Homo sapiens: one gene and its partners. The protein of the gene in region 1 interacts with the protein of each later gene in a pairwise test. Each region holds a gene or a part of one and is shown on either strand. Other genes may lie near its edges.

Region 1 (4,642 bases):
TTGAAGATTTGCAATATTGCCAATTAGTTGTTCAGTGTCAATATAATTCTCATTTATTTGCACATAACCTGGCTTTTCTGTTTGGAAGCTTTTAGCATTTTCTGTTTCTTTGTTTGTTTGTTTGTTTGTTTGTTTGTTTTTTCCTTGAAGTCCTGAGGTTTAAAAGAGTATGTTTAGTTTGGGGTCTTTTTACATACCATTTTTTAGCATTTATTGGGCCCTGAATCTTGAATTCTAGGAAACATTTTTTTGTTATTATTTCTTTGATCATTTTCTCTCCCTGTGTTCCATCTTCACTGTCCTCATGCAGCTCCTTGAAGATGGGCTTTTACTTTTATCTTTCTATTTGTCTGTCTTTTCATTTGCATTCTTGGAGAATTCCTCAATCTTCCATCTTAGCCATGTGTTCATTTTACTATTTAACTCATCTAGATTGCAGGCGTTTGACTAAAACAGCCTGACACATATCTAGGAAACAAGTGACATAACCTATCATCATCTTCAGTCATTTTATTTAGAATTATTATTTTTCATAGCAATATGTTTATATTTTATTATTAGATTGTGTTTAAATGTGATATCCTCTCCAGTTTTTCTGGGATTTTAATTATGTACCTTTTAAATTCTGTTGGTCTCCTTATATATTTTTTCAAAATTCTTGTGTTCTCAGCATGATATTGGAGTGTGTCCTCAACCCATGCTTGACCCACTTTGGCATGCATATGTGTTTTACTTTAGGGGACACTTCTGCTGATTGGGCTAGGGAGGGAGGTAATAAGAATCCAGATGGTGGATATTATAGGCCTTTTTTTTTTTTTTTTTTTTTTTTTTGACAGTTGGCAGAGCTAGCTGAGGTTTTATTTTGGGAAAAAGAAAAAATTTGAATTGTTTTGTAGCTGGATACATGGGCAAGGGGACTACCCAGGCAGTAAACTGGCCCCACGGATGGGCTAAGGGCTAGGGCTGAGCCTCAGGTGGGCCTCCTATTCCCTGTACTCCCCTGCACAGTGGTGTAGGCCATTTTTTAAGTCCACCTCTTTTGCCACTGAGTTATCTGGGGCATGCCCTGCTTCTTTATTTCCAGCGCTGGGCTATCTTCCTTGTCAGAACTCCCATTAAAAAGTTTAGCTTGAAGTTTTATCCTGGGCACTTATGTTGTCAATTACTTCTTTTTTGTACCTTAATCCATTGGTCATTGTGTACGTTCAACATTACCTCAACCTCTGCTTCTCTCTTCAGTCCAGTTAATATTATTAGCAGTCTTTCTTTGGCAGATCATTTATTTTATTCTTGAGGCTTTATATGAGGGCACTGCTGCTAGCCATCCAATATTTCTATTTCTAAGAGGAAGAGGGTGGGCTGGGAGAGTGCTGCTAACAGCAAAAACTAGCACAGCTGTTAGGAATGCCTAAGTTGAATTAGGAAATGTCTTACTTTATCATTGTTTATTATTTTCTGAGACATAGACTCCAGAGAAATGGGGTCAGTGCTCCCTTACTTTGTAATTATTGATTCTGAGTTTGGTAATTGAATTTCTATGATTTCTTAGGATGTTTTACCCACGAAGAAGCCTTCTGTTATACATAATTTGAGCTGTACATTTTTTTCCCCTAGTTCCTCCATCACTCCTAATCCATCTGCTCCTTATCATTTAGGAGTTCCTCAATGTTTTTATTCTGATGATATCAGCCTTTCTGTTTTCCCAAGAGTATTATGGATTTCTTGTCATTTCAGTGTAATATTAGGCTATTCACTCTAATTGTTTAAGTCTCGGGGAGGGTTTTGTTTTTGTTTTTGTTTTTTAATATACCAGTAAGTCTAAACTCTGTATTCCTAGCACAGTTCTCTCACAGGAGTTCCAGACCTATATATATCTCACAGCTTACGGACCAGTACTGCAAGAATGTTCCACCAACACCACAGATTATACAAGGCAGTTCTGCTGCCTTCCCTACTTCAGCCTCTTCCTGTTGCATTTCCTATCTGATTATATAGCACCACCATACCGTCACTCAGGCAGGAATCCCAAGGAACAGGCTTGGTGCCTCCTTTCTCTTCTAGGTTTAGTTTATCATCACATGATCTAGAATGAATTTCTCCTATTCTCTCCACAACTATCATCCTTACCGTTTTTCTTCTGATTTGCTATGGCAGCCGTCTCGCTACCTAAAGTCTTGCTTTCCAGTGGTGTTTATTGTCACAAAGTCAGTCATTTCACTCTGAATTAAAATTCTTTAATAGTTTTCAATCCCTTCAGGGTTTAGCCCCAAGGTCCTTATTATTAGACACTAAGCCCTTTGCTCTGTCCTCTTACTTCCCCTCCGTGGCACATTCTTCACCACTCTTACTGTTTTTATCTCCTTCGTAAGAAGCCGCTTGTAGTTTTCTTTAACATGTCATATTTTCTCTCCACATTTCACTTCCTTTTTTTTGTTTGTTTTTTGTTTTTCCTGTCATTTTCTCCCAGAAATCTTCCTAAACACCAGGGTCTGAGTTGAGTGTTCCTCTGCTGTGCTTTCGTGGCTGGTTAGGCATACATCTCTTGTACTGTATTGTACTATACATTCATCTACACCACTCACTTAGTATTATCATTATTTGGTGTATTTGTCTTCCCAGGAAGCTTTAGCTTGTTAAGCAAAAGGATTTATATTTTCTTCCTTGTATTCCCCACACCTATGAAAGCAGAATACCAATTAAATGCAAATTTACTTAAAGGAAAGTAGGCCGGGTGTGGTGACTCATGCCTGTAATCCCAGCACTTTGGGAGGCTGACGCGGATGGATCACTTGAGGCCAGGAGTTGGAGGCCAGCCTGGTCAACATGGAAAAACCACACCTCTACTAAAAATACAAAAATTAGCTGGGCATGATGGCATGTGCCTATAATCCCAGCTACTTGGGAGGCTGAGGTGGGAAAATTGCTTGAACCTGGGAGGTGGAGGCTACAGTGAGACCAGATCACACCACGGCACTCCAGCCTGGGCAGCAGAGTGAAACTCTGTCTCAAAAAAAAAAATGAAGTGAGATGAGATGAAATGTTATTGTTAGCAAGGATATAGGACTTACAGCCTTCTATAGGATTAGTTAGGGAAGACTTTCCTTGGCTATGCTTAAAAGCCAAGAGAAAATTTCTGTCTTGTACCCAGATACAAATGTACCTGACCTTAACCCAAAGGACATGACTATAAAGACAAGCTGAACTTTTTCCTAGTTACTAAGACTTCAGGCCTTAGGCACTCTCACTCTGAAATCTTGAAGTCTACCCTTTGTTCTTACCACTGAATTGTCTTTGTTCCCTAGGAGACTTGAATGAAAATTCTGTGGAGAATCTTCAGCAGAAAACACTTCAGGATCTGTTACATGAGCTTTCCTCCTGGCTAGTTTTGGAAGGCATGGCCAGTACAATTACTGGAAGTCAGGATTGTATTGTGAATCATCGAGGGGAAGTGGATGGGGAGCCTGAACTAGATATTTCCCCTTGTCAACAGTGGGGAGAAGCATCTTCTCCTATTTCCAGAAACAGGGACAGTGTGATGACTCTTCAAAGTGGTTGTTTCGAAAACATTGAAAGTGAAACATATTTGCCTTTGAAAGTCTCAAGCCAAATAGACACACAAGACTCTTCAGTGAAGTTCTGTAAGAATGAGCCTCAGGATCATCAGGAAAGCAGACGTCTCTTTGTAATGGAAGAAAGCACTGAGAGAAAAGTGATAAAGGGGGAAAGTTGTTCAGAGAACCTTCAAGTTAAACTGGTGTCTGATGGACAAGAACTGGCCTCGCCATTGTTAAATGGTGAGGCAACTTGCCAGAATGGCCAGTTAAAAGAATCTTTGGATCCCATTGACTGTAACTGCAAAGACATTCATGGATGGAAATCACAGGTGGTCAGTTGTAGTCAGCAGAGAGCTCATACAGAGGAGAAACCCTGTGACCATAATAACTGTGGGAAAATACTTAACACCAGCCCAGATGGTCATCCATATGAGAAAATCCACACTGCAGAGAAACAATACGAATGTAGTCAGTGTGGTAAGAACTTCAGTCAAAGCTCAGAGCTACTACTTCATCAGAGAGACCACACAGAAGAAAAACCCTACAAATGTGAGCAATGTGGGAAGGGCTTCACAAGGAGCTCGAGTCTGCTTATCCATCAGGCAGTCCACACAGATGAGAAGCCTTATAAGTGTGACAAGTGTGGGAAGGGCTTCACCAGGAGCTCAAGTCTGCTCATCCATCATGCCGTCCATACAGGCGAAAAACCTTATAAATGTGACAAGTGTGGGAAGGGCTTTAGTCAGAGCTCCAAACTGCACATCCACCAGCGAGTCCACACTGGAGAGAAGCCCTATGAGTGTGAGGAGTGTGGTATGAGCTTCAGTCAGCGCTCAAACCTGCACATCCACCAGCGAGTACACACAGGAGAGAGGCCCTACAAGTGTGGTGAGTGTGGGAAGGGCTTCAGTCAGAGCTCGAACCTTCACATTCACCGGTGCATCCACACAGGAGAGAAGCCTTACCAATGCTATGAGTGTGGGAAGGGTTTCAGCCAGAGCTCGGATCTTCGCATCCATCTCAGAGTCCACACTGGAGAGAAGCCCTATCACTGTGGCAAGTGTGGGAAGGGATTTAGCCAGAGTTCC
Region 2 (4,642 bases), on another chromosome or scaffold:
CTATTTTTTATTATCAGACTAGATAGAAGACGAGACTGTTTATCTGTTGAGAGATTTTAAAAACAAGATTATTGTATTTCAGCCAAATGTACTTCCCTTGTCCCAGAGAGGATAGGCTATATGATCTCTGAGGTCCTCTCCTTATTAGTCTTTTTACTCTGTTTACTGTAGACCCATTGTACCAGTATGTTCAGTTCCCATAGAAAAACAAAAGAGTGTTTACACACAGTCATTATAGATAAGCCAGCAGTGTGTGTGATTAGGGCCAAACCAGTATTGATGATGGCCTGATACTGACTTTAGAAAGTTTGACTCACCTTGCAGAAATGAAAAGCCAACATAATGCATTAGCGTCTATGAAGACTGTAATAAGGCAAATACATTTGTCCAGAAACAGGCTGATATTGATACACTGATTTTAAGTGCTTTTCCCCAAAAGTACAATAGAGAAAGCCAGGAATATATAGCCTTGGATTACAATAAATGATAATAAAACAGCAGAAGCAAATAACACTTAATAGGGAAGTTTATTTTCCACACTTCATCAGATTGCTACTGCAGAGTACTAGTCTAAAAATTTAATATGAACACTAGCTCTGTAAATACGGGAGAAGTAATCTCAAATCATCCTGAATTAATTATCTTTGTGCTAAGCTGTTTGACATTACTCATTGAAAATAGCTTCTCAAGACAGGCAGTATTTTTCTACACACAAATAATTGTGTTCTCAGGTTGGAAATGTTGCCACATATTAAGCCAAACACATTTTTTTGCTTCTAATTCTTATATTACTATCAGTTTATTTCAGGGAAAGTTAATTTGAGAATTGAAATCATGTAGCAGAATAATTTTGGTTGAAATTGATGTTTCTAAGCCTGATGCATTTTCCATTAGTGTTACATGGTATCATTGGAAGTTTGTACAGTGAACATGCCAAACATTAGGTTTAGTTTTCTGAAGACTCTAGCAAGTATTCTTTTTTTTTAAATCCACATTGTATTAGTTTAACTGGCAGGTAGTAATTAGTTTTATATTGAGTGAGCTAATTTGCCACTACTAGCAGATTTTGAAGTTATTTTAATATAAATACATTGTCCTCTACCCCCAAACTTTATACTGAAATTTTTCTGCTAAATTTTAGGATTATAATTTTGATAATGGCCCAGGATATTGGAATAAAATATAAATGTGAGTTAGCATTAATATCTCAGTTTAGAGAATAACAATAAAAGCAGGAATGTGACCTGCAGCCACATTTCTTCAGTATCGGGGGAAATTCAGCCCCCAATATTTGACGTGGGTCCTTTTCTATTTTCCCTAAGTATTGGCCGGTCTGAGAAATAAAGGGAAATAGTACAAAAGAGAGAAATTTTAGAGCTGGGTGTCTGGGGGAGACATCACATGTTGGCAGGTTCCGTGATGCCCCTCAAGCCGCAAAACCAGCAAGTTTTTATTAGTGATTTTCAAAAGGGGAGGGAGTGTACGAATAGTGTGTGGGTCACAGAGATCACATGCTTCACAAGGTAATAAAATATCACATGGCAAATGGAGGCAGGGTGAGATCACAGGACCGGGGTGAAATTAAAATCGCTAATGAAGTTTTGGGCATGCATTGTCATTGATAACATCTTATCAGGAGACAGGGTTTGAGAGCAGACAACTAGTCTGACCAAAATTTATTAGGCGGGAATTTCCTCGTCTTAATAAGCCTGGGAGCGCTACGGGAGACTGGGGCTTATTTCACCGCTTATCCACAACCGTAAAAGACAGACGTTCCCAAAGTGGCCATTTCAGAGACCTCCCCTTGGGAATGCATTCTCTTTCTCAGGGGTGTTCCTTGCTGAGAAAAAGAATTCAGCGATATTTCTCCTATTTGCTCTTGAAAGAAGAGAAATATGGCTCTGTTCTGCCAAGCCCACAGGCAGCCAGACTTTAAGGTTATCTCCCTTGTTCCCTCAACATTGCTGTTATCCTGTTCTTTTTTCAAGGTACCCAGATTTCATATTGTTTAAACAATTTGTGCAGTTAACACAATCATCACAGGGTCCTGAGGTGACATTCATCCTCAGCTTATGAAGATGACAGGATTAAGCAATTAAAGTAAAGACAGGCATAGGAAATCACAAGAGCATTGATTGGGGAAGTGATAAATGGCCATGAAATCTTCACAATTTATCTTCAGAGATTGCAGTAAAGACAGGTGTAAGAAATTATAAAATTATTAATTTGGGGAACTAATAAATGTCCATGAAATCTTTACAATTTATGTTCTTCTGCCATGGCTTCAGCCGGTCCCTCCGTTCGGGGTCCCTGACTTCCTGCAACACTCCAGGGTCAGCAGTAGAGAGAGGCTAGTTGAGCACTTGCCTCAGGTACAAAATTTAAGGGACACCAAGACACTTAGTAATACAAATAAATATTTTATGCATTTTAGAAAATCAAGATTAATGCAAAAAATCCATAATGAACAAAATATCAAAATTTTAAAGGAAGACAGGATCAGTATTACTGAGTTTTCCTTTTGTGTCAGGCTCCAGTTTGGTTTGTAATAGCACTGTTACTGATCCTATCTATAAAGTTTTAATATTTCGTTCATCATGGATTTTTTACATTAATTTTGATTTCCTAAAAATATTGCATTAATATATTATTTATCTTGGAACACATCTGAATTATTGGAGTAAAGACATTCTGAAAAGTCTCTCCTGCACAATAACAATGAAAGCACTGGCAAAAATATCAAAATAAACCATTTTAGAATGGTGGAAATTAACGAAGGGTTTATAACAATCTGAGGAATATTTATTCAAGAAAAAGGACTGAATCTCAGTAAGAACAGTGAACTTTGTCATTTTTAAACTTACCTTATTCCCATTCCTTCATCCGCAGCTCCATTGTAGCCTTCAAAACTAATAGCCTAAGTCAGGCACAGTGGCTCACACCTGTAATCCTAGCACTTAGAGAGGCTGAGACAGGTGGGTCACCTGAGGTCAGGAGTTTGAGACCAGCCTGGCCAACAAGGTGAAATGCTGTCTCTCCTAAAAGTACAAAAAAAAAAATTAGCCAGGCATGGTGGTGTGTGTATGTAATCTCAGCTACTTGGGAGGCTGAGGCAGGAGAATCGCTTGAACCCGGGAGGTGGAGGTTGCAGTGAGCTGAGATTGCGCCACTGAACTCCAGCCTGAATGACAGAGTAGGACTCCGTCTAAAAAAAAAAACAAACAATAACTAATAGCCTAGAAGCCACTGAAAGGGACAAAACAGGTTTAGAGCCCTCTAAGATCCCCAGTCTCAGAAAATTGTCACTATATGATTGCTCTAGAAGCTTCTTAAAAAACTCCATTCTCAAAGCTTGTTTTGCAGAGCCCTGTGGCATTTTTGGAAAACAATCAGCAGTAATTGTTTAACCTCTCAGCTGCCTGAGGCAGTGACACCAGTTGGGGTTAACAAGAGGTTAACCAAAAAACTTAAAAGGAAAAATTGGAAAAGGAGCTACCTATGGGGGCTTTAAAAACCTTTGATGTAGTCTTTGGAATCTAGAAGTCCCATGTCTGTATGTCCAGGAAATACTTAATAAGGCCTTAATCTGTCATCTCAGACTAACAATGAGGCTTTGCATAAGTAAAGTAGGAAGAGAAGACTAAGAGTTGTAAACTACCTGCTGGAGTGTTAAAAGCATGTACCCCACCCCCCAACACGCGTAATCCCTCAGCAAAGACAGAAATCTCTGTACCGTCATTAGCTGACCACTGAAGCTAGACTTCAGCAGCTGCACATGATAAACAAAGTAGACTTTACATAATTAGTCTGGGAAATAGCAATAGAAACAATAGTAGCAACAAATATAACAACAAACCTTTATGCAGAGTGGAATCTTATTTCTAGGTTGCCATATTTTTTTAAATCCAGTTTTCAACATAAAATTTCCACACACACAAGCAGTAGCATATGGGCCATAACAGGAAAAACAAAAGTATCCCTGAGAAAGTCCAGATACTGGACTTAGTAGACAAACATTTTAAATTAGCTATTATAAATGTGTTCGAAGAGCTGAAGGAAACCTTGTCTGAAGAATTAAAGTAGAAAAATGATGTCTCTTCAAATAGAGAATATCAATAAAGGGGGAAATTGTTAAAAAAGGAACAAAATAGAAATTATGGAATTGAAAAGTACAATGATTGAAATGAAAAAATTTACTAGAGAGGCTCATCAACAGATTTGAACTAGCAGAAGAAAGAATCGGCAAACTTGAAAATAAATCAATTGAAATTATATACTATGAGGAACAGAAAGTCAAAGGAATGAAGAGAAATGAACAGAACATCAGATTTATGGGACACCATTATGAATACCAACATATGTATAATTGAAATCTCAAAAGGAAAAGAATGAGAGTAAGGGGACAGAAAGATTACTTGAGGAAATAATGGACAAAAACTCAAGCAGCAAGAGAGAAGTGAGTAATCATGTACAGAGGATCTTCAATAAGATTAACAGCTGACTTCTCATCAGAAACTGGAGGCTAGAAGATAGTGGAATGATGTATTGAAAATGCTGAAAGACAAAAAAACTGTCAATCAAGAATTCTATATCCAGCAAAACTATTATTCAAAAAAGAACAAAAGATTAAGATGTCTCAGAA
Region 3 (4,642 bases), on another chromosome or scaffold:
AAACCGGGTTCATCTCTATTCCCACCTTCATTTAAAAGCATTACAGCGGCCTAAATTTAAAATGTTCAAGTCATCCCACAACCTTCCTACTCCTTCCTTCACATTCAGTCAAATAATCGTTGGACATTTGAATTTCTTCTCATATGAGTCCCCAATAGTTCCAAATGCTCTATTCCCAGCTCTGTTTTGTTGTCTTACTACATTCTTCCTCATCAACTGAAGTTCATTTTCTTCTCCCTCCAGTCAACTGTCCTAAGAAGCCCTGCTTTACACAAATTGGATTATCATTCCCTCACTTAAAATACTGAGTCGCCACTGTCTACATGATGAAAACTTCACCTGGTGTCTCTCATTAAGTATCCTTACTGACTAAAGATAGTTGTGGTGAGGAGGGAAGGTAGCTCAAAGAACAAATTTTCTTTCAACTCTTCGGTGTTTCATCTATAAAATTAATGGGAACTCTGTTCAAAATTCATCTTATTACTAACCAGTCAGATAAATATTCAACTTTTCAAGAAAAACTGATTTCCAGGGGCTTCTGCCATGCTCATATTGTGTCTCATATTTTAGGCCTAGCCACCATCCCTTGCCCCACAGTTGGTGATATACAGGTAAGCACAAATCTACACTACTCACAATCTGGTCCCTCAACACTTTCCTTAACAACTCCTCCAAACAACTGTATCCAAAAAGGTATTGCCTTTCCTCCAACTTTTTCTTCTTTCTGTGCTTGTCTTCTGCCCCCTCTCTTCCTGGTTGGAATACCCTTCCCCCATTCCATGCTCTCATTCATGGCTGACTCTTAAAATGCCACTTCTTTCCTGAAGCCTTCCTTCACACAGTCACCATCCTGCCACCAACTCCCAGGTAGAATCACTTTCTCCTTGAGCCTTGAAGAACTTTATAACCAGAACACCCATCACATTTCAGAAGTATCTATTTCCCTTGTGGACTGTGATAGCGATTTTAAAGTTTTAATTATCTTTGTATCTCCAAAGCTAAGGCAAAAGTCAAGTGCCTAGTAAGCACTCATTCAAATGCCACTGAACTGAATTTCTTTAGGAAAAAGTTATTAATGGTCCCTGTTCAAATCTATCCTGAAAGTGTAAAAAGTCAATATATATAATCCAGCAACTAAAATTCTGAAATGTTTAATACTGCTTTTACATATTAAGGGGGGAAACCCCAGAACTCCCCAATCTCACAGTATAAAAATAACACAATAAAACAGTAAAAAAAAAAAAAAAAGAGTTTGGTGACTGTGCTGAAGTGAATAAAAACACTCTGAAGTGGTAAAAGTTACAGTAACTTTGAAAAAGTGGCATCAGAAAAGACACAACTCACTAAATTTTATCTAAATTTTTGGCAATCCTGCCACGGGATGCTAATATATAGAAGTCATTAAAAAACACTGTATTTGTGAATGTAATTCCTAACTACATGAACAGCTCAAGCAAAATGTGTTTAATCACATGCAATAGTATCACTAAATACTACCAGGAAAAAGAATTACATTCCACATTCCAAGTTCATAATGGCCTTTATCCAAATTATAACTCCTGTTAGAAAGGCGTGAACCCAGGAGGCGGAGCTTGCAGTGAGCCGAGATGGCGCCACTGCACTCCAGCCTGGGAGACAGAGCAAGACTCCGTCTAAAAAATAAATTAAAAAAACAAAAACAAAAACAAAAACAAATTATAACTCCTGTCATACAGATTAAATTTAGACATAAAATTATTAAACTGATATTAGGCTGAAATTTAATTCCAATTACTCTTGAATTTACTAAAGGTTATTCTTTGCTCTCCAAACACAGAAAGAAATGCCTTGCAAGGTAATTCAGAAATTTCAGACACAAGGCAATTTCCACCAGTCAATCCTACATCTGAGTAACAGAAATGATATATTAATTCAGAAGTACAAAAAAATCAGTTATGATTCTAGAACTCTTGGACTAAAATCCCAAAGTTAAGTAAATCCCACACCCTCGTTTTAAATCAGAAAAATTAAAAATCTGAAATTCTAGAGAGCAGAAAAATAATTTGTCTCTATATTTATGAACATTTACTTTATTATGGGCAGAGATTAAATGACATTTCTGGCATTTATTAAGATCGTATCATTTCTCTCCATTAATCTTCAAATGTGATAAAATGCACTGCTTTTCTCATGTTGATCCATTCTTACATCCTCAAGATAAACCCCATTTGACTGTGAGGCTTTGTTTTGTTCTAGTTCGCTGAGTGAGGTTTGATTTGCTAGTTCTTAAAAATTTGCAGCCACTATTTGTAATATTTCGTCTCCTCTATTCTCTTCTTTTGGAACTGTTAGCTGTATGTTGGAGTTACTCATCTTATCCTCATGTTTCTTACTCTTCCTATTTTATATCTCTATCTTTGGGTTCAGGCTTCTGGGCTTCTGTCCATTGCAGAAGATTTTAGCCTTTTGTGTCATGGATGTTTTTGGCAGCCTGGTAAAGCTTATGACCCCTTTCTCAGAACAATATTAGGGGCCTAAAACAACATACACAGTATTACAAAAGAAATTAATTATATTGACATAGTTATTGAAATATTTTTCATTTTGATATGGTAATAATGCGGTTCTTTATTAACACTTTAAAATATATGCTCTAGCAATAGCTTTAATAACTATAATAATTTCAAATTAGTGATGACTATAAATGGTATTTCAAGATAGCTGTAACAGCTAACAGCAATTGTGCTATAAGAAAAAAAAAATCCGTAGTTTCTATTGGTGTTATGGGTTGAACTGTGTCTCCCCCAAAATACATGTAGAAGTCCTAGCCCCATGACCTTATTAGTTAAGATGAGGTCATACTGCAGTAGGGTAGGCTCCTAATCCAATGACTGGTATCACTCAAATGAAGATAGAAACACACAGGGAGAACACCGCCATGTGATGATGAAGACATGGAATTATGCAGCTCCAAGCTCAGGAATGTGAAAGGTTCCCAACAACCACCAGAAGCAAGGAAGACAAAAGAAAGGATTCCCCTACTGGTTTTAGAGGGAACATGGCCCTGCCAACTTTTTGATTTTGGACCTTTAGTAATTGTGAGACAATAAACTTGTTGTTGCTTTTTAAGCCACCCAATTTGTAGTACGTTGTTAAAGCAGCAATAAAAACTAACACATTTGCTGTCACAAGTACCTCTAATACTGTCATAGCTTGTTAACACTTCCTTTAATTATGAATGTTCAGGTTGAGATTAGTAAGAACGTCACATTTTCCTTCAAGCCCGCAAACACTCTGAATTTTAAGAATGCTTTGTCTACAGCAACATAATACCTTAGCGTGAAATCCATTATTAATGAACTGTTTTTCATTCTGAGTATCGCAAAAACACAATCTCACAGATATGTAATAATTTTGGTTCTGGATTCTGAGATGCAGCTATGACATAATACTTATCATAAATCTAAACATTAAAGAATAACAAAATTCATTACCTGAGTTAACTTCTTAAACTAATATACAGTTATCCCCTAGTGTTACATTACTGATTTGTATAAGTGACCTAGTAAAAAACTTACTTCTGTAAGTAAAGCATAAAGACTGGTATCTTGTTAGCATATTCCTTGTAGAACTAATCAAGTTGGTGTTTAAGCCCAATAGCCTTTGTTTACTTATTCATCCACAGATGGAGGCCATACTTTTTTTCTCTTTTTTAAAATGAGGGCTGTGCATGGTGGCTCATGCCAGTAATCCCAGCCCTTTGGGAGGCCAAGGCAAGAGGATCACTTGAGCCAAGGAATTTGAGACCAGCCTGGGCAGGACCCGATCACCACAAAAAATTTTAAAATTAGCCAGGTGTGGTGGCACACCTGTCGTCCTAGCTACTTAAGAGGCACAGGTGGGAGATCACTTGAACCCAGGAGTTCAAGGCTGCAGTGAGCTATGATCATACCACTGTACTGCCCTCCAGCCTGGACAACACTGCAAGACCCTGCCTCTTTAAAATAAATAAATACATAAAAAACAAAATTGAGTAGTACAAAATTTTGTGTCATCAAAGATACATGGCTATTAAGCCCAAAGTAAGTCTTAAAAGACTATTAATATACCAATTGTTTCCAAATTTTGTATCTTAATTGTTCAAAATGCATGCTTTTACCTAATCTTCCTACCACTTCTACTCTTAAGTCTTTTGTTTAAGTATGTCAAAAATAACAATATAATAAAATTAACAAAGTCTAAATCATACACCATCAACAAAGGAAGGGCACATATGATGCTTAGTCCAAATTCTTTAATTTATAAATCAGCAAACTGAGGCCTACAGAGCCCAGGATTAGAGAATAAATTAAAAATAGCTACAAAAGAAATCCATCTCCCAATTTCAAGTCCAGTGTTCTTTAGACTATACCATACTGCACAGAAGATGGTAAGAGTTAAATAAATGATGTACAAATGGCTTTTACATGAGCACTTAAATTCTATTTATAATATAGCATTTAAAAACATTCTAGTTACCGCAAAACAACCTAATAAGTTTTTAAATCAATTTTATTTTACCATAAAGCATTTAAAAAATAAGACTTCATTTTCTACCTTCAAAATTGGCAAAGAAAAATTCAGACAACTGTACAGACATTTCAAAGTTTAAGCACTCTCATAT
Region 4 (4,642 bases), on another chromosome or scaffold:
GGGGGTGCTTGACCATGCATGGTTTGCACCTGGGGGATGCACGGGGGTGGGGTGGGGGGGGGGGGTGTGCTTGACCATGCATGGTTTGCACCTGGGGGATGTTTTACACTAAGGGCTCAGTCCCTCTGAGGGAGGAACGTGTGGATTGAAATCTGCAGAGTTCTTGAGCGACACCAGTCTGATCTTTAGGACTCATTTGCAGCGGGAATGGAGCAGAAATTGTTGTGTGTGGAGCCTGGGGCCACTCCTGACTCTTCCAGTCACAGCTGCCCCCAAAAGTGACCTCTGGGCACCTACTCAGACCTGGCTGCTCAGTGCCAAGCGCTGGGTGTTCAGAGGTGGCCAGGGGACTCCCTCGTGCTGCCCATGGTGTCTGGTCTCACTGGTCCTCACAGTTGCCCCGTCCCCATTTTCAGATGAGGAGGCTGAGGTGCAGAGCGGGATGTGGGCTGCTCAGGACCACACAGCTGGTGGGCACAGAGCCAGGAGTACAGCGCTGCGGCAGCTTGGGGCTGGGAGCGAGACTCTCTGTTACCAGCCTCTCCCTGCTCTGTGCCTCAGAGGATGGCTGTGGCCCTGAGCTTGGGAGGGTCATTTGGGAATCTGAGGAAAAGTTTCCACAGCCTCACACAGCAGCAGGTTCAAGGTCCAGCAGTGCCAGGGGTTTGCATCCCACCCCTAACGCCGCTCATCCAGGGCCCATCCGGGTCCGGGGCTCGGGATCCTGCAGCGCTTTCAGCTCTGTGTCTGTGGCCGGTGGTTGTCCTTCATTACAGGGATGGTGGTGTTTTTCCATGTTGCTAAGCAGCATGTGAGGGCCTCTGTTGAATAAAATAAAGCCCTTGCTCCGGCGTGACACGGGTCACGGGATCTCTGCTCACTCTAGTCTCTTCTGATGCCCCCACCGCACTGTTTGCCTTAGTTTGCTTTTTACTCTCTGTGTTGGTTTCTGGGGCATCAGTCCTCTGACTTCGGTGCTGTGGCTTGGGCCTGGGGTGGGGGCTGTGGAGCGGCAGATCTGGGTATGAATCCCAGCTCCACCCATTTGGCTCCCTCTCTTCTCTCCCCTGCCCTCTTCTCCCCTCCCCAGCTCCCTTCCCCTCTCATATTTACTTAACTTTACTCAGTACCAGCGTATTAGTTTTCTAGGGCTTCCGTAAGAAACTACTGGAAACTTGGTGGCTTAAAACAACAGAGGTTTGTTCTCTGATGGTTCTGGAGGCAGAAGTCTGAAGTCAAGGTGTGGGCAGGGTGGGTCCCTCCTGGAGGCTCTGAGGGAGGCTCAGTTCCTCGCCTCTGTCCAGCTTCTGGCAGTGGCCAGTGGTCCTCCTGCTCCTTGGCCACTGTCACCCGTCTCCGCATGGCTCTGTTACACTTCTCTTCCTATAGGCCATCAGCTCTTGGAGCCAGGGCTTCCCTACTCCAGGCTGATCTCATTTCAAGATCCTTAAATACATCTTCAAAGACCTGTTTTTCCAAATAAGGGCACATTCACAGACATTGGTGGGCACATGATGTGGGGCCCAATTCAGCCCCCTGCAGCCAGGCTCCACATGGGTGGGCTCTGGGTGTTGCTATCATCATCCCCGTTTCTTGGATGAGGGAAGGCCAGGGTTGTGTGGCTCATGCCCAGTGAGGCAGGGACTCCAGGCCTCGGCATGTGCAGGTCTGAGATTGTAAGTGCCATGCCATCTGTAGAGTCACGTGGGTGAGTGTCCTCCCATGGTTTCCTCCCTGGAAGCGGTGCTGGCCCATGGGGACTGTACTGAGTGTCAGCGAGATCCTGTATGGAGTGTCTGGCAGCTCCCACCTGCCTCCCTCTGCTTTTCTGTCTCCAGCAGACACTAAGTGCCAGAGCGGGCTCTGCCGGTGCTGGATGTGCCTGACCTTGACTTTTCTTCCAGGCAGGATGGACTCCAACACTGCTCCGCTGGGCCCCTCCTGCCCACAGCCCCCGCCAGCACCGCAGCCCCAGGCGCGTTCCCGACTCAATGCCACAGCCTCGTTGGAGCAGGAGAGGAGCGAAAGGCCCCGAGCACCCGGACCCCAGGCTGGCCCTGGCCCTGGTGTTAGAGACGCAGCGGCCCCCGCTGAACCCCAGGCCCAGCATACCAGGAGCCGGGAAAGAGCAGACGGCACCGGTAAGGGAGCAGGCTGGGAAGCCCAGGCTGGGGATGTTCAGGGATAGCTGGGTGGGAACGGGGTTCAGCCACCCCTGGAGGGTCCCCCCGCCAGGTCCTCTGCAGTTCAGCATTGTGCAGCTCCCATGCTGTGCACAGGCGTCCATCCAGTGGGGCTACCCACCTCCTCAGAGCCTTGCACCTGTCACCTTTGTGGCACCCACTCGAGGTGGTGCTGGTGCCCCCACTCCTCTGCAGTCCTTCTCTTCCCAGGGCCTCTGCAGCACTTCACAGCTTCCATTTGCAACAGCGTCCAAACATGTGGAGTAAATTCACGGGCCCTCTGTAACCAACTAGGGTGGCAGGCCAGAGGTGACAGCCACACTCTCGGGAGTGAGGCCACATGCGGGCGAAGCCCTTGGTGCTGAGTTTCCCCTCTCCCTGAGGGAGACTTGTGAGGGACGGGCGTCCTTCACCTCCATCCTGAGGCGGGATGCTGGGGCCCTGGGTGTTCACAGGCAGAGCTGACTGAGGCCCTTGGTCTTCACAGGCCGAGCTGACTGAGGCCCTGGGTGTTCAAAGCAGAGCTGAGGCCCTTGGTGTTCACAGGCAGAGCTGACAGGCTTGTTGGTTCCTGGGTGGTGATGTGAGGGTGGTGGGTGTGAGCCAGGGGAGTCCGGCCCCTGGGCACCTTCTCCAGCTGACTCAGGCCTCGGTCAGCCTTCACTTTTGCTAGAGAGGCCGCTGCCAGGGAGGCTCAGTCCCAGCTCATCACTGCCCCTCCTGCCCATGCAGAAGCCCCAGACCCATGGTGAGTGCCTGCTGTGTACACCAGCCTTTTCCATGTGCCTGCAGGACTCCTCATGGCAGTCCTGAGAGGGGAAACTGAGACACCGAGTCTAGGTGACTTGCCCAAGAGACCCAGCGGGTGAGAGACGAGGTGCTCGAGTGGTCCAGGTTTCCTTCTTGTCCCAGTCACCCCACTGGCAGGGCCGTGGGGCCTCCCTGCTGTGGTCGCAGCGCGCTGAGGCTCCCATGTACCACTTATGCTGGGCGTGCCCTTGGAAACTCACTGCAGCCCTGGGCCCTGTTTGTCTTTGCATCTCCTTAAAAGATCACTGTGCTCCTCTGCTTTGTTTTGGAGGCCTCTGGGCGGATGAGGGCCTGACCCCGGGATTTGGGCCCAGCCTCACGGCTTCAGGGGAACAGATACCAGGGCTCGGAAGCTTGGTTTCAATCTGGGTAATGAGAACAGCCCGCAAAGGACAGAGTCCAAGACTGTGTGTTTCAGATAAGAAGAGTCAGGAAGCAGCTGTGGTTTGTTTGGCTTCGGTCTCCAATGTGGGGGTGGTGAAGAGCAAGCCCTGGGCGCCGCCTGACAGCCCAGTCCCCACCACTGGGCCTGCAGCTGGGGGCAGTGGGCATCCCGTCTCCCAGTCACTGGTCACTGATGTGGCCAAAGCAGGCCTGGCCCTGCATGCCCAGTGGCCGCAGGGAGGGCAGGGCCCAGGGTCCCTGCCAGTAGCAGCTGCTGCGAGAATCTGTTATTTAGCTCCCCCATCCAGCCAACATAGGTGGGTGAGCATCAGTTGAAATACCAATAGGTAACAACAAGGGTAGCTATTTAACTGACACTTCCCCGAGCTAGGCATCTTTTTAGGGCATTAGCCCACTTGCCTCTTTAACAGCCCTGGGAGGCAGGCTCTGCTGCTGCCCTGTTTTTCAGATGGGAAACCGAGGGATAGAGGGCTTAAGTAGATGACCCAGCGTCCCGTGGTTGGTGAAGGGTGGAGGGGAGATTTAAACATACCGTGGAGCCTGTGCTCACTATGGGCCTCAGGTCATCTGCGCCCAGGGATCCCCATGTCCCAGGCTCAGAGAAGTGCACAGAGCAGGTTGGCCTGTCCCTAGATCAGTGCCTGGCCAGGCCCTGGTGACAGGAGTGAAGGCTCAGTCCTGCCCTCCGGGAGCCCTGAGCAATATGGGAGACAGGAGTGAACAAGGAACTACATTCTGGGGCTCATGTAGCGCGGGGGACAACCCACATTGCAGTCCCCTAGGGGCACCCCAGGAGGGCCTGGTCACTCTTCAGGGCATCAGGAAGACTGCCTGGAGGAGGCATCGTCGGAGCCCCATCTGAGCTGCTCCTTGGCCTGTACACTTGGGAAACAGGAGAAGAGCAGCCTTGGGGTTGCCCTTCTCTGGTTGCCTCCCTGAGGAACTGACCCCCTTTTCAGCCCTTCATTCAGCAAGGCTGGGGAGGGGCTGCTTCAGAAACGTCACTGGGCTGGAGCCCCACACTTCCTTCCCATCCTGGCTCTGTGGCCTTGGCAAGTCACCTGCCACCTGGGGAACCACTGCCAACGGGTCGGGGCTTGGAAGCTCAGGGGCTCCTGGGCCCAGACAGGTAAAGGAAACAGTGACTCCGGCTAGAAAGGAGACTGCAGGGAGTTGTGAGGCTCTTGGGCGTCCCTGTGCCAGGGCGGGACTCCTCATGGCAGCCCTGAGAGGGGAAACTGTGT
Region 5 (4,159 bases), on another chromosome or scaffold:
CCACTCGCCCAACGCGGTATCGTGGACCACGTCTGAGTGCCAGAGCGGAGGGTGGCAGACAGAGCTGAGGGCTATTTGGAGAGACCTAGGAGGCTGGGGGTGTGGGGACAGGGTCCTCGGGGTCAGAGTCCAGGACCACAGGACCAGGAGGGAGCCAGGACCCTGAAAGTCTAGGCGAGGCCGCATGGGGCAGGGGGGCCCGCAGGCTTGGTTAGTGGGTGCCATGGTCCCTGCCCATCTGTGTTCTCGCCAGCGATGCCTGAGCAATGGGTATTCCAGAACCCCACGAATACTGGGCTGCTGGGCTCGAGTCCTGGGGGAGGGCGTGGTCCCCATGTCTTACTGTGGAGGAGATGAGGGCTGCAGGGATGGGCACTGTGGTCCATAGCTGGTCTCCCCAGGGGTAACAGGAGGGGTGAGGCTGCTGGCTGGAGCTAGGCCCCGGGTGGGCTACCCCAGTCCTGGGGGGCAGCCATGAGCTGGGGAGGGTGAATGTGGCTCAGGGGCCCAGAGTGCTGCCAGGGTCCACTTTGTCCCGAAACTCCTGGCCTTGGTTCCAGAGGCAGCTTTCCTAAGATGGGCCGGGGGGCCATGTGCTGGGGTTGGGGGCCCACGGGGCTAAGAGGGAGACTGGCCTTCAGGGTTCACAGAGGCCAGCACCAGAAGGCATTGCTTCCTGCCTCATCCCATGCCCCTCGGGGGTCCACAGACAGGATGAAAAGTCGACAGAGACAGAGGGGTGGAGCCAGGCCTGCTGGGGGTCAGGACTCTCCCTGCAGTCAGGGGTGGCATCACTTCCCACCTCACCCTGTGCCCCCCGGGGGTCCACAGACAGGACAGAGGTTGGTGTGAGACAGAGGCGGCTTTATTAGAACTAGAGGGGGTGCTGCCCAGGGTGGAACCAGGCCTGCTGGGGGTTAGTTCTGCAGAACTTGGGTCTGGGGGAGTAGCTGGGGTCTCTCATGCAGCCAGCATCTGGGAAGGACAGGGGGAGCATCCTGGTCCCTAAGACAAAGAGCCTGCCCCATCTTCTGAGGGTGTCAAAGCCAGAGAGGGCAGAGCTTGCTGGGGCAGCTGGGAGGTCAGCCCCTGGTGGGAAGGGACTCCGGATCACATCCAGGGCTGTCAGCAGCTGGACTTCTGGCCAGAGCAGAGGCTGTAGCAGGCAGGGCGGGAGCACATGGGGCGGCAGAGGAGGGAAACACAGGAGGCCGTGCGGCAGCAGCTGGGCTGGCAGGAGGAGGCAGAGGCACCACAGGAGGGGACGGGCACGCAGCAGGTGGACTTGCACACAGGGTGGCAGAGGAGGGACACGGAGGAGGAGGATCTGCAGCAGGAGGCGGTGCAGCAAGCCGGCTGGCAGCTAGACTGCTGGCAGCATGATGTGGAAGCCCCAGAGCAGACGGGCACACAGCAGGCGTGCTGGCAGGGGGAGGAGGTGCAGCAAGCTGGCTGGCAGCTAGACTGCTGGCAGCATGAAGAGGAATCCTCAGAGCAGGTGGGCACACAGCACACAGGCACGCAGCAGACGGGCACGCAGCAGGCCTGCTGGCAGGGGGAGGAGGTGCAGCAAGTTGGCTGGCAGCTAGACTGCTGGCAGCATGAGGGTGTGCAGGAGCTGGTGCAGCCTGATTGGCAGGGGCTGGGCTCACAGACCGCCTGGCAGCAGGGGCTGGACACACAGCTCACACAGCTAGACTGCTGGCAGCACGAAGAGGAAATCCCAGAGCAGACAGGCTTGCAGCAGACGGGCACACAGCAGGCCTGCTGGCAGGGGGAGGAGGTGCAGCAAGCTGACTGGCAGCTAGACTGCTGGCAGCATGAAGAATCCCCACAGCAGACGGACACACAGCACACAGGCTTGCAGCAGACAGTCTTGCAGCAGACGGGCACGCAGCAGGCCTGCTGGCAGGGGGAGGAGGCACAGCAAGCCAGCTGGCAGCTAGACTGCTGGCAGCACGAGGGCGTGCAGGAGCTGGTGCAGCCTGATTGGCAGGGGCTGGGCTCACAGGTCACTGGGCAGCAGGGGCTGGACACACGGCTCACTGGGGTGCAGACCAGGCTCAGGCAGGGGGCCGGGGCGCAGCAGGGGGGCTCACAGCAGCTCTCTGGGCAGTCGTCCACCTGCCAGGAGTCGGAGCAAGAGTCACAGGAACCAGGAAGGCAGACGCGGCTGCCGTAGCTCAGGTCGCTGGAGCAGACGGACATGGTGGACGCGGCCATGCTGGGGTTGAACTGGTGGAGGGTGAGGGAGTGAGCCTGTGAGGTGCTGAGGCTCTCGGGCTTTTATTCCACCTGGCCTTGTTGTCCCCGGGCCCACAGCTTCCCCTTCCGTGTTGCCGAGAGCTGGAGTCTGCCGGGATTAGGGGTGTTTGTTCGCCCGTGATGTGGGCCAGCTCATAAATCTCCCATCACATCTGGGCTGTGTCCCATCCCATGTGGATCCCTGGCGGCAGGAATTGGGCGGGGCCTGGTCCCAGCTGGGTTCGGGGAGCTGGGAGAGCCACAGGTCGCGGCATCGTCCACCCCTGGCCCCAGCAGCCCCGGGACACAGAGTCCCTCTGCAGGAAGCCGGCCTCAGGAAGTGTCCTTGTGGTGAAAACCCCTCATCCAGCGTGGTCCTTCCCCCATCACCGGACACAGGACTGTGGCCATCTTCTGAGGGACAACCTGGGGCCCATGAGCCTTCATTGACCTGCCCTGGGCCATGGCATGGTGGGGGTGGGGGGCAGCTGTAACTGTGCCCAGACCTCTTGGCTTTGAGCTCTGGACGACTTCTCATCCCCACAGCCTCTTCACCTCCGGCCCTGTTTCGTGTCCACCTCGTCTTTGTGTTTTGGAGGCAGCAGGACCTGTGTGTTCCAGGGCAAGGACGGTGGGCTTGGCCCCTCCCTGCTTGGACAGCATGACAGCCTTCTGGGCTGTGGTTTTGGGTTCTGAACCTGCAGAGTAACCGTGCTGAGCAGCGGGCGGTCAGCAGCCCTCGTCCCCGCCTGGGGTGGCTCCTCTGTGTGCTCTGCTTCTCCGAGGCTGCCCGTCAGCCCCCACCCAGCCTCCTGCTGGGCCCATTTCCCAGCCCTGTCTTCCAAGCCCTGTGCCAGGCCTCTTAGTGTCACCACCTTAAAATTAAGGGACATCTGTCCAAAGAACCCGCACAGAAGACACAAAATGGGTCCATGAGAAGTTGATCTCACTGCAAACCCATTGCCAGTGTAAACGAAACATAAAATCCTAAGCCCCTCAACTGACTAAATGGATCCCATCTTGCCCACGGGGACCCCCGAAAAACTGCGTTCCTGGCCATGACAGGAAGGGAGGTCAGACACGCCTCGTTACACCCCCTCCCTTTAGGGTTTCGACACAACCACTACCCAGCACTAAAGTTAAAATAGAGACCGTAAGACCCACAGAGCAGACTCTGGCAATAAGATATCAAATTACAAACAGGACCTCAGGCCGCGCCAGGCAAGGGACAAGCCGCGTGCCCTACACTGAGAGGACGGACTCTGCTCTCACGCCACAGCTGCTGTTTTTCTACAGTGGCTAAACACGCACTGGCCCCGCGATGAGGATGAGCAAGGTTCAAACGACTGCAGCTCATCCACCAGCAGATGCCAACTGACCACGTTCCACAGCCATGACCACAGCTCTGACTGGGCAGGAGACTGACTTCAGGAACCTCCTCCTGATAAGGGACCCCCAACCATGGACTGGCTCCAGCCGGTTTACAGAGGCTGTGCACTGGAGTGCCTTTGTGTCCTGAGAAGACTTCTGAGGTTTAGGGCCTCATTGCGACCCATTGACATGATAAGACTCCACCCTGTAAGAAGTACATTTCAAGTGGTCCGTATTCAGAAAACAGGCCCTGGCAAGTCCAGGCAGCTCCCTTGCAGATGTGACAAGCCACACAGTACAGACATCTGGGAAGAGTGATAAGACTCACAGAAGTCAGAGGGGAGGAAGAAAAAGTGACGGATGGCTAACACATAAAAGGAAAGAAACTTTTGCCATTGAGAAATCAAATGTAAAGTGGGGAAGGGGACAAGATGTAACCTTATAAGGGGATAATGAAACTTAGGTGACGTCCAGGAAGCCTGTGACCCCATAGTACTCAGGCTGCGAGGAACTGGGCGAGGGACCTGCACACTAGGGGATAAAT

The links.
Region 2: the proteins of ZNF239 (region 1) and MTUS2 interact in binary tests that used the Homo sapiens proteins (3 or more experiments, as listed by UniProt).
Region 3: the proteins of ZNF239 (region 1) and SPRED1 interact in binary tests that used the Homo sapiens proteins (3 or more experiments, as listed by UniProt).
Region 4: the proteins of ZNF239 (region 1) and WFS1 interact in binary tests that used the Homo sapiens proteins (3 or more experiments, as listed by UniProt).
Region 5: the proteins of ZNF239 (region 1) and KRTAP10-6 interact in binary tests that used the Homo sapiens proteins (3 or more experiments, as listed by UniProt).

The regions. Positions count from the first base shown.
Region 1 is NC_000010.11:43,556,832-43,561,473, reverse strand, and holds part of ZNF239 (zinc finger protein 239), read left to right. Parts: intron 1-3,302; coding exon of another isoform or gene 3,303-3,394; coding exon 3,395-4,642. UniProt on the Homo sapiens protein: May be involved in transcriptional regulation.
Region 2 is NC_000013.11:28,826,324-28,830,965, forward strand, and holds part of MTUS2 (microtubule-associated tumor suppressor candidate 2), read left to right. Parts: intron 1-4,642. UniProt on the Homo sapiens protein: Binds microtubules. Together with MAPRE1 may target the microtubule depolymerase KIF2C to the plus-end of microtubules. May regulate the dynamics of microtubules at their growing distal tip.
Region 3 is NC_000015.10:38,258,605-38,263,246, reverse strand, and holds part of SPRED1 (sprouty-related, EVH1 domain-containing protein 1), read right to left. Parts: intron 1-4,642. UniProt on the Homo sapiens protein: Tyrosine kinase substrate that inhibits growth-factor-mediated activation of MAP kinase. Negatively regulates hematopoiesis of bone marrow.
Region 4 is NC_000004.12:6,275,547-6,280,188, forward strand, and holds part of WFS1 (wolframin), read left to right. Parts: intron 1-1,904; 5' UTR 1,905-1,909; coding exon 1,910-2,141; intron 2,142-4,642. UniProt on the Homo sapiens protein: Participates in the regulation of cellular Ca(2+) homeostasis, at least partly, by modulating the filling state of the endoplasmic reticulum Ca(2+) store.
Region 5 is NC_000021.9:44,590,262-44,594,420, forward strand, and holds KRTAP10-6 (keratin-associated protein 10-6), read right to left. Parts: upstream 2,245-4,159; 5' UTR 2,224-2,244; coding exon 1,126-2,223; 3' UTR 1,007-1,125; downstream 1-1,006. UniProt on the Homo sapiens protein: In the hair cortex, hair keratin intermediate filaments are embedded in an interfilamentous matrix, consisting of hair keratin-associated proteins (KRTAP), which are essential for the formation of a rigid and resistant hair shaft through their extensive disulfide bond cross-linking with abundant cysteine residues of hair keratins.